2 separate regions of the Homo sapiens genome follow, and region 2 is linked to region 1. Evidence: fine-mapped expression QTL. Tissue or cell type: whole blood. Region 1 holds a variant in brackets; the other region holds the start of a gene. All regions are shown on one strand. Distances are between the middles of the regions.

Region 1 (5,878 bases):
TAGCAATTGTGATGGTTAATGCATGTGTCGACTTGACTGGGCTAAAAGATGCCCAGATAGCTGGTAAAACACAATTTCTTGGTGTGTCTGTGAGTATGTTTCTGGAAGAGATTAGCATTGAAATTGGTAGGCTGGGTCAATGAGGTTGCCCTCACCAATGTGGTGGCCAGTATCCAATTTGTTGAGAGCCTAAATAGAACAAAAAGGTGGAAGAAGTGTGAATACACTCTCTTTTCTTGAGCTGGGACATTCACCTTCTCCTACAGAGCTCCTGGTTCTCTGGCTTTCGACTTTGGGACTTGCACCAGAGGGCAGTCCTCCCTTTCCCACCCTTCCAACTCCAGCCAAATTACATCACCAGCTTTCCTGGTTCTCCAGCTTTCAGAGAGCAGATTGTGAGACTTCTCAGCCTCCATAGTTGCAGTAAGCCAATCCCATGATAAATCTGTTTCTATCTCTACCTCCTATTGGTTCTGTTTCTCTGGAGAACCTCAGTGAATACAGTAATAAACAGCCCATTAAAATATGGCCAAAGACTTAAGCAGACGCATTACTAAGAAGACATACGGATACCAACTAAGCACATGAAAAGATGCTCATCACCATTAGCCATTAGAGAAACGAGTTAGTAAACTTTTCCAGTAAAGGATTAGATACATAGTAAACATTTCCAGCTTCATGGGCTGAGAGGCAAAATTGATGATATGACGTGTATACGTAGTTATATAGCAAGAGAGAAAACAAGTTTCCACAAATTTTTATTGATGAAATTAAAGATATAATAAAAATTGAGTAAGTTTTGTAATACAGGTGGACTAATGAAAACAATGCATTTTTGGGGGTGGGCAGAAGGACCATGTTTAGTTTAATCAGTGCTGAAAGTTAGTGTTTCCTGTCATCAAAATCAGTTGCACATGCTTATATGTGATGAATTTTATATATTTCATCTTTGCAATGTCTTTTTACACGTATAGGCACTATGTAAAATATTTGGTACTGCCAAATACTAATATGAATCTGATATGGTTTGGATCTGTATCCCCACCAAATCTCATGTTGAACTGTAATTCTCAATGTTGGAGGTGGGGCCTGGTGGGAAGTGATTGGAGCATGGGGGTGGTCCTTCATGGAGGGTTTAACACCATCCCCTTGGTGCTGTTCCTGTGATAGTGAGTTCCCATGAGATCTGGTTGTTTGAAAGTGTAGCACCTCCCCCGCCTCCTCCCTGCGACCCTTCCTCCTGCTCCAGCCATGTGAAGTGCCAGCTTCCTTTTCATCTTCTGCCATGATTGTTAAGTTTCCTGAGGTCTCCCCAGAAGCCAAGCAGATGCTGCCATGCTTCCTGTACAGCCTGAAGAATCATGAGCCAATTAGACCTCTTTTCTTTATAAGTTACCCAGTCTCAGGTATTTCTTTATAGCAGTGGAAAAATGAGCTAATGTAGAATCCATGAACATATGACTTTGATTGAGAATATTCTTCACTTGGGAGATACTTATAAGAGTTCTATTAGATTCTTCTTTTGACATTTGCCTGTACGCATGTCATTACATTGTTGATTAACTACTTCCAGCTGAAGTTCAGGTGGTCACTACTCAATTGCTTAAATAAATATATTTAGAAATGTTGAAATTCCCCTTGTACTTGCATAGAAGTCTGAAATGCACGTGCTGCTGGAACTGCAGTTTGAGTTCAGAAAAGATACCCCCTGCAAATTTGTGTGGGAATGGATATCTCACTTCATGTTTTAACTTTTGACAGCTCGGGAAGTACTTAGAGCAGCTTAACATTACTTGTGATTCAACATTGTTGCCAACTTGACTTTACCATAGTATAGATATTATGTATAAGTTTTGTTTTTCCCTTTAACTTCAGGTTTAATTCATTAAGGAACATAAAGACTGCAGCAAAAACTTATTTCTAGTGCTATTCAGTGCTGGATAATAGTAGTTAAAGGCAGTTTTTCTCATTCAGAAAAATTTCAATCTCGACCTTTAACTTTAAAGTTCTCAGTAAAACCTTACCATTGCTAAGCTATGGAACTGCTGTGTGGTTGGGCAAGTCAGCAAATTCAGCTTCTATTTCTAAAAAAAGTTCATGGAACTGATGATGGTTGAGTCAATGATGCCATGTGAAGTCTACCATTGACACTACTGGTTCAGTAACAGGATTGATTCCAATGTTTTCCACAAAGTACCTACAGATGAATGATACAATGAATAACCATAGGCTTTAAGCACCTACATTTTCATAAACTTTGTTTTTTCAACTAAGCCTTTGTTCGGCCTCACACATATTTTCACTACTATCAGATTTATCACATCTTGGCAGATTCCATTTCAGGCTGTGTTGAATTAGCATTTTCTCAATTTCTTCAACAAATATTCTCATCCATGTTTGTTTCATACACATAGAGGTTAATTTCTGTCACTTCAAACTTGGCAGTTACCCTTCAATAAGCAACAGCCAAGCCGTATTGGTACATCTGTCAACTCATTAAGAGCCAAGAAAAACCACTTGAAATCATTTGCCTTGTTGTTTAATTGGCTATTGATATTGTTACTCATGTCTTTGACTTTTTGAGCAGTTATTCTCATTGAGAGACTAACAATGGGCTGGGTGTGGTGGCTCACATCTGTAATCCCAGCATTCAGGAGGCTGAGATGGGCGGATCACCTGAGGTCAGGAGTTCAAGACCAGCCTGGCCAACATGGTGAAACCCCGTCTCTACTAAAAATACAAAATTAGCCAGGTGTGGTGGCACATGCCTGTAATCCCAGCTACTCGGGAGGCTGAGTCAGGAGAATTGCTTGAACTTGGGAGGTGGAGGTTGCACTGAGCCGAGATCACACCACTGCACGCCAGCCTGGGTAACAGAGCTACAGTCAGCCTCAAAAAAAAAAAAAAAAAAAAAGGCTAATGATGTTTATTTTCTCTGGACACATTTCTTCAGCTGTTGCAATCAAATATGATTTAATTAACTCACTACTGGTAATAAAAATAACCTTTCCCTGCTTGGCTAACAAATGAGCAACTTGGTAACCTATTTTGCTTGCAGTCTCATTTTGATTTTTTAGTTTTTGTAAAGAAATTCTACTGTGATGAGATATGCCACTTAAAATGTTTAACTTTGATGATTATTAACTTCTTGCAAGTTAAGAATATTGTGGAGTGCTTAGTCTGGTAATGTTGATGGATAACATCGTGTTCTTTTAGCATAGCTATAGTGTCATTGCATAATGGACACAATGCTTTGCCATTGTCTTAAAAGTGCGACATTTAAAGTCTGCTTTTGTCTTTTCTTCTTATTTTGATGTGATGGGCATGCACTGGTAATTAAAAAATAGGTCACAGTACAGCAGTATATGTGGCACACAGAACACTGTTTAGCTATAACTGCACCTCTGTGATTTTTGTGGGCTGAGCAGCAGGGGAAATGAGGAGAGTGCCATGTATGGTCCCCTTCAACAAATATTTAACTCTGTCATTGTAGTGCAAATGTGGCTATAGACAATATATAAGCAAATAAGC[A/C]TGGTAGTGTTCCAATAAAACTTTATAGACACAGAAATTTGAATTTTGTATAATTTTCATGTGTCATGAAATAATATTCTTTGAGTTTTTCCAATCACTGCAAAATGTACAAATATTCTTTGCAGGATGTACAAAAACAGGCAGGCAGTGGGCTGTATTGACCTACCAGTTGTAGAATGCCCAACCATGCCCCAAGTCAATGTCCATTACACAATGCTGAGCCCCTAACAGGAACCAATATGTGGAATGATAGTGGACCTGTGACTACGCCTCAAGTTATTCACTTGGGAATTTATGCATTCTGTCCCTGTAACTTCAGGCTCCATCTGACTGGAGGTACTAGATTCTAGGGAGGAAAGACATTTATCAGGGGTCACAGTAAGAGTCTCACTAAACATAAAGCTATGGCTGTGACCTGGTCACTTTATCCTCCTTATGCCAAGAGACAAGAAGTCACTCTATAATGAAAGGAGTCACTCTGTTGGCAGGAATAATTAACACTGATCATTAGGAGAAGATGCACTGCTGCTACACTAGGTGGGGGTGAGCAGGAAAGACTATGAATGTGGCTTGGATGATTCACTGGAAAATTTCTTGGTGCTTCGCTGCCTAGGTGTAATGGTAGATTAACCCATACAGCAATCATAGCCTGAGAATTATAGCCAGAGAATTATAGCCAGGGATGAGGGTCTGGATCACCACTGCACCCACTTCCCTTCCCATTACTGGCAACCTGTGTAGACAGCAGAGATGCAAGTCAAACAGGAAAGGAATCTAGAAAGGGTAGTGGATGAAGGGGAAAAGGTGTGTGACTGATGGTCTCAAAGTAAATGATGGGCCTGTAACTTGTCCTTTTGACCCTTTTCTTTTTTCTTCAGGAGTACACATGCGGGTTTATTAAACATAAGTAAACTTGTGTTATTGGGGTTTCTTGTACATTTTGTTACCCAGGTAATAAGCCTATTACCCATAAGTTATTTTTCTTGATCTTCTCCCTCCTCCCACCATCCACCCTCCAATAGGCCCCAGCATCTGTTGTTCCCCTCTATGTGTCCATGTGTTCTCACCATTTAGCTCCCACTTATGAGTGAGGACATGTGGTATTTGGTTTTCAGTTTTGTGTTAGTTTGCTAAGGATAATGGACTCCAGCTCCATCCATGTTCCTGCAAAAGACATAATCTCATTCTTTTTTATGGCTGCATAGTATTCCATGGTGTATATGTATGTACCACATTTTCTCAGTCTACCAATGATGGGCATTTAGGTTGTAAGGAATATAAATCATTCTATCATAAAGACACATGCATATGTATGTTTATTGCAGCACTATTCACAATAGCAAAGACATAACTCTTCTCTTTTAAGTTTTCCCAGGAGACAAGACCAACCAGAATCGTTATTTTTAAATGGTGAACATTTACTATGGGAAGCAAGTAGATATGAGTGGCATAAAGGGTTGGGCTGCAGTGGATTTGCAGATGTAGTGGATCCTTTCTTCATAGCTGGTGACTCATCCCACATCTCTTGGGAATATTGGCTGCTGCTCGGTCACTGCTGTCATCCATTGGGAATTGTTTTTGGCCATAGGGAAGAGATTTGACCAAGATTATGTCCTCTCCTAAGGGGAATCCTGCAGCCAATCACTGGCTTGTGGTTGGTGTTATAGGTTGAAGTGTATCCCTCCTAAAAGATATGTTGAAGTCCTAACCCTCAATACCTCAAAAAGTGACCTTATTTGGAAATAGAGCTTTTGCAGATGTAGTCAATAAGATGAAGTCATTGGGTGGGCCCTAATCTGATATGATTAGTGTCCTCATATTAAGGGGAAAGTTGGACACAGGCACAGATGTGCACAGGGGGAAGAATATGTGAAGACACAGGGAGAATGCCATGTGAAGACAGAGGATTGGAGCGATGTGTCTACATGCCATGGAACACCATGGGGGATGCCAGCACATCCCCCAAAGCTAGGAAGAGGAAAGGAAAGGTCCTTTTCCTACAGGTTTCAGGAGCATGGCCTTGCTGACACATTGATTTTGGGTTTCTAACCTCCAGAACTGTGAGCCAATTAAACTTCTGTTGTTCTAGTCCCCTGTCTTAGTTTGTCCAGGCTGCTATAAGAAAATACTATAAGGCTGGGTACGGTGGCTCACACCTCTAATCCCAGCACTTTGGGAGGCCAAGGTGAGCGGGTCACTTGAGGTCAGGAGTTCAAGACCAGCCTGGCCAACATGGTGAAACCCCGTCTCTACTAAACATACAAAAATTAGCTGGGCGTGGTGGTGGACACCTTTAATCGCAGCTACTTGAGAGGCTGAGGCATGAGAATCACTTGAACCCAGGAAG
Region 2 (5,878 bases), 110 kb before region 1:
ACCCCACAGGGACTTTATTCCTGCAGAGACACTCTCCTCTGGGCTCAGCTGTTTCTTTCTTGGCACCAGATCATCCATCAGTATATAAGCCTGCTTTTCATTCTCCCAACTCACACCTGTCAGAATTCTCTCCCCTTTCTCAGGAATGCTTTGGTAATGAGTCATCCACATGTCCTGCCTCCACAACCTCCTTTCCGCTTCACTCCCTAAACCTCTGCAGTATGCGTCTGTCACTCCACGAACCTGGCTTGTCAAGGAACGTTCACTGGGCATGTGTTTATTAAGCTCTTGCTCTATCTACATTATGCTGAGTTAGGCAGTGGGAAAATGAAGGTGATCAAACCAGTCCCAAACTCTGGGCTCCTATGATAATGGACACATACACAACTAAGTAAACAATGCAATTAGAGTCTGGGAAAGTTCTATAAAGAAAGCAAACCATGGCCGGGCACGGTGGCTTACGCCTGTAATCCCAGCACTTTGGGAGGCCGAGGCGGGCAGACCACCTGAGGTCAGGAGTTCAACACCAGCCTGGCCAACATGGTGAAAACCCGTCTCTACTAAAAATAATTCTTTAAAAATTAGCTGGGAGTGGTGGTGTGCGCCCGTAATCCCAGCTACTCAGGAGGCTGAGGCAGGAGAATCGCTTGAACCCGGGAGGCAGAGGTTGCAGTGAGCTGAGATCGCACCACTGCACTCCAGCCTGGGAGACAGAGTGAGACTGTCTAAAAAAAAGAAAAAAAAAAAAAGAATAGAAAAGAAAGGAAACCATGAGAGGACACAGAATCACTGGTGAGATGAGGCAGTGGTTCTCTATTTTAGATAATGGAGTCCAGGGAGGCCTCTATAGGAAAGAGCACACCATCCAAAAAGCAGGGAGAAGGGCAGTCCAGGTGGCTGGGATAGCAAGTGCAAAGGTCCTGAGGCAGAACACACATTTGTGGTTGGCAGGAAAGAAAGGCAATGCGTTTGGAGAGAAGTAAATGACAGAGGTTGTCAGGGTCAAGTGGGTAAAGAATTGATCTTCAATGCAAGGGGATGTCCTTGCAGATTTAAGGGACAGGATCTGATTTGTATCTTAAAACAAGTCCCCAAGCCCCACTGCCGTGTGGAAAATGAACTATAGGGGGAAGAGGTGGAGAAGGCAACAGAGTTGTTAGAGGCAACAATTTCTCAATTCTGATGTCCAACAGGCATCTCACATTTAATGCATCCAACAAAAATATCTGGCTCATCATTCCCCCTCAAAACAAAACAAACAAAGCCCCTGCTCCCCACTCAATCTTCCATCTCTGTAAACAGCCCACCATTCACCCAGTTGTCAAGCCAAAGACATAGGGGCTATCCTTGCCTCCTTTTTCTCCCTCATCTTCTGTGTCCCAAGTCCAGTACTCTTTCTTTGTCCACTCCTCTGCATTCCCACTGTCCTCCCTCAGGTCCAGGCAGCCCTCTCTCCTTCCTCCCCTCTGCTCCTTCTCCACGAAAGAGTCAGGCGTGCTTTTCTTTTTTTTTTTTGAGACAGAGTCTCGCCCTGTAGCCCAGGCTGGAGTGCAATGGTGCGATCTTGGCTCACTGCAACCTCCACCTCCCAGATTCAAGCAATTCTCCTGCCTCAGCCTCCAGAGTAGCTGGGATTACAGGCACGTGCCACCACGCCCCGTGAATTTTTTTTTTTTTTTTTTTTTTTTTTTTGGATTTTTAGTAGAGATGGGGTTTCACCATGTTGTCCAGGCTGGTCTGGAACTCCTGACCTCGTGATCCGCCCACCTCAGCCTCCCAAAGTGCTGGGATTACAGGGGTGCTTTTAAGAACACAGATCGGCCAGGTGCGGTGGCTCACGCCTGTAATCCCAGCACTTTGGGGGACAGAGGCGAGCGGATCGCGAGGTCAGGAGTTCGAGACCAGCCTGGCCAACATGGTGAAACCCCGTCTCTACTAAAAATGTAAAAATTAGCCGGGCGTGGTGGTGGGCGCCTGTAATCCCAGCTACTCGGGAGGCTGAGGCAAGAGAATCGCTTGAAACCGGAAGGCGGAGGTTGCAGTGGGCCGAGATTGTGCCACTGCCCTCCAGCCTCGGTGGAAGAGCGAAACTCCGTCTCAAAAAAAAAAAAAAAGAAAAAGAACACAGATCTTCTTGCCCAACAACATCCCTCAAGGACTCCTTTCTTTTTCAGTATCTTGAATAAGACTTAAGAGACAGGTCCTGGAGAAACAGAGAAGGGAGGAGGCAGCCTGAAGGGGGCGGAGGCAAGCTCGTAGCACCGCCTCCACGTCTGGCTTGCGTTCTTCCGGGCTTCGGAACTTTTCTTCGCGGAGCCTGGGGAAGCTTTTCCAGTAGTACTTTCCGGCGTTGTTGACCCTATTTCCCGTGCTGCACCGCAGCCCCTTTCTCTTCCGGTTCTAGGCGCTTCGGGAGCCGCGGCTTATGGTGAGTGTTGGCCGCGCGGCATCCGATGCCATCCGCGACTTACGGGTGGCGGCGGGGCGCGGGCTGCGGAGAGGACTGGTGACCGACCGTGTGTCTGTCGGGAGCAAAAGCTGCGGGGTGGGAATGGTGCTTCTAGGTCCTAGGAGGGGGATGGCAGGGAAAGCCACTTTATTGGGGAATGCAGCTTTCCGGGGGTAAGGAGTTGATTTCAGGGCATCATTACCTGGGTTTGGGAGGCCAGGACTGGCGTTTGGTCGTGCAGAGTAAGCCGAGACTCGTGGAGGCTGCACATTCTCTGCCTGCAGGCTCATTCTGACCAGAATGGGGGGGGCAGAGGTGGCCCAGCCTGGCGAGCCCTTAACCCTGATCTCCACTTTTGTCTTCCAGGTGCAGACATGGCCAAGTCCAAGAACCACACCACACACAACCAGTGTAAGTTTTTTGGGCCCTGCCTACATCCCAGACCCTGGCAAGGACTGGTTCAGGCAAACTGGGACAGAGATGAAGGGGCACGTTTCCATTGTGGGCCTGAGGCTGATTGATTTCACCCAGTAATAACTTTAGGGTTTATAGGTTTAGAGATCTACTTGAGATACAGAGTGTTTTGCATTTAGTAGTAAGGGTTTCCCATATCTCAAGTGTAGCTGCTGTAGGAAGTGTTGGTTCTCCCAGACTTGCCAGCTGTGATGTTGGGTGGTCTTATTAGAGGAAAGTTCTTTGTTGGCTTAATTCCCTTTTTTTCTCCCACAGCCCGAAAATGGCACAGAAATGGTATCAAGAAACCCCGATCACAAAGATACGAATCTCTTAAGGGGGTGAGTGCACTGAATCACATGGAAGTGTCTTTTCTTGGTTCCAGGTGCACAGTCAAGGCCTCTCATGTAGTTTTTCTCTAGCTTTGGCTTCTGCCTGAGCACAGCCTAACTGGCCCACCCAAAGCCTGCAATTCCTTTTTCTACCCTACCAGACCCATAATAAAGCTTTCCTTGGTCTCCACAGCCTGAAGTGTAACCCTCTGGTCAGGGTGTAACCTGCCTCCTGAGGGCAGTTTGGCTATCTCCCTTGCTTGGCAGTGGCACTTAGGGTAAGGAGTGGCCTTGTCTGAGTGCGTGCAGGGCACATTCCCACACTGACCAGCCTTATGACCTCCATCTGACCCAGTGCTGGAGTTGGGGTCAGCTTCTCTTCCTGTGTCAGGGGGTTCTAAGGATTAGCTGAGAAGGCTGGAGGGTCTAGGGGAGAGCTGAGCATGTCCCCAGTCTGTTCCTTCCCTTTACTTTTGCTCTCTGTTCCGTGGAGTGAATCACAAACTCTGAGCCTCAGTTTCCCCATATCCCACCTTGGCTATAAGTCTTTTGGACCAGACTTGGTATTTAATTGACACCTTCTTCTAAAGAGGGGAGGGGGTGTCCCTGAGGGGATGTCAGGAAAAAACTTGGTCGAACCCCTGCTGTAGGAAGTTGAAGCCCCACAACCTTGGCAGACAGGGCAGCAAAGCAGCTTGTAATTTTGTTCTTGAAGGAGGTCTGCACAGCATTACCCAGGTGGCGTATTGGCTCCCTGGGGTGGTGGTACACTTTCTCTGGAAATAGTTTCAAGAGGTTGGGTATTTCCACATTTGAGGTTGACTTGATGCTGTCTTTAGAATGCTGGGTACCCCTATGGAGAGGGGCAGCAGGGAGAGACTTGGGGACCCACATGCTGCCACCTGTACCTTTCCTGCTTTTCAGGTGGACCCCAAGTTCCTGAGGAACATGCGCTTTGCCAAGAAGCACAACAAAAAGGGCCTAAAGAAGATGCAGGCCAACAATGCCAAGGCCATGAGTGCACGTGCCGAGGCTATCAAGGCCCTCGTAAAGCCCAAGGAGGTTAAGCCCAAGATCCCAAAGGGTGTCAGCCGCAAGCTCGATCGACTTGCCTACATTGCCCACCCCAAGCTTGGGAAGCGTGCTCGTGCCCGTATTGCCAAGGGGCTCAGGCTGTGCCGGCCAAAGGCCAAGGCCAAGGCCAAGGCCAAGGATCAAACCAAGGCCCAGGCTGCAGCCCCAGCTTCAGTTCCAGCTCAGGCTCCCAAACGTACCCAGGCCCCTACAAAGGCTTCAGAGTAGATATCTCTGCCAACATGAGGACAGAAGGACTGGTGCGACCCCCCACCCCCGCCCCTGGGCTACCATCTGCATGGGGCTGGGGTCCTCCTGTGCTATTTGTACAAATAAACCTGAGGCAGGATTTGTTAGCCTCTGTCTATGATCCTGGGGATGGGTTTGGTTGCTCCATCTGTTGGTGTGGGAGAAGACATGGGTCTGGATGGTGGGGTGTGGGTGGGAGTCAGGAGATGGGGCCCTGAAGTGCAAGAGGAGGACCTAATGAATGAGAAATGATTGGGGGCTTTTGGGAAGCTCGGGCACATAGCTTGCTGGACTGTGTAACCTGCCGAGCAAAGGGAGAAATTTTTTTTTTTTTTTTTGAGACAGAATCGTGCTCTGTCACCCAGGCTGGAGTGCAGTGGTGCCATCTCGGCTCACTGCAAGCTCCGCCTCCCAGGTTCACACCATTCTCCTGCCTCAGCCTCCCAAGTAGCTGGGACTACAGGTGCCTGCCACTACACCCGGCTAATTTTGTTTTTGTATTTTTAGTAGAGATGGGGTTTCACTGTGTTAGCCAGGATGGTCTTGATCTCCTGACCTTGTGATCTGCCTGCCTCGGCCTCCCAAAGTGCTGGGATTACAGGCGTGAGCCAGTGCTCCTGGCCCAAAGGGAGAAATCTTAAACATCCTCATGAGGTCTTAAAGCTTACTGCAAGGGAGGGGAAGGGGCCCCGCTGAGCAGCTCTGCACTCTGGCCTGAGGTGTCCCAGATTTGGGCTCTTTTGGTGCACCTGGTCAGCATCCACTGCTCTGGGCTATGTTAGTCCCCCAACAGCTAGGGACCCAGGAAGGCAGGTGGTAGTGGCACTGCCTTACTCCCGTGACTGGTTCTGACCCTTCTGTGCCCCTGGGTCAGCTGCTTCACATGGAGGTCTTTATCCTCAGCAGTCAGTGAAGAAAGTACTGAAGTAATAGTAAGCCTTTGTGGAGGCTGCCTATAGAAGGCACCACGTGGGCACTTCCTGGCCGCACTTAATCCTCAAAACCAGCCTTGGTCCAACCTCGGACACTTTAGAAACTCCTAAAGGGGTGCTGTTATGCTACAGCTGCAGGTGCAGCCCATGGCATGTGATCCCCTACTTCTGAAGTAGGTATTATGATTATCTTTGTTTCACGGGTGAGAAAATATTGAAGATAATGAACCTACGAAGGGGTGGGGGTAGCATTTGATCTAGGCAGTCCATGTGGGGCCCTAGGAGGTTTCAATTGCCCAACCAGAGCTGGGGCTGCTAGCTCTTGACTGTAATCCTGGAAGTCTCTGGGTGGCCAACTGCCCCTTGCCAAGGCATGACAGGTGGAGGTG

What was found. PIP is the estimated chance that this variant, and not a neighbour inherited with it, causes the effect.
Region 2: it holds the start of RPL29, and the variant in region 1 is fine-mapped to the expression of RPL29 in whole blood (TOPMed, PIP above 0.99).

Annotation. Positions count from the first base shown.
Region 1 is chr3:51,879,290-51,885,167 of GRCh38, reverse strand. No RefSeq gene overlaps it. Among named protein-coding and RNA genes, the nearest start is that of IQCF5, 6.6 kb to the right of the region's middle. The variant A/C (reference allele first, on the strand shown) is at 3,532.
Region 2 is chr3:51,992,407-51,998,284 of GRCh38, reverse strand. It overlaps RPL29 (ribosomal protein L29), which reads left to right and starts at 2,390. Exons shown (of 4, transcript NM_000992.3): 1 at 2,390-2,428; 2 at 2,816-2,860; 3 at 3,179-3,243; 4 at 4,159-4,763. The coding sequence starts at 2,824. The coding sequence ends at 4,536. RefSeq lists enhancers at 2,286-2,445, 4,199-4,931.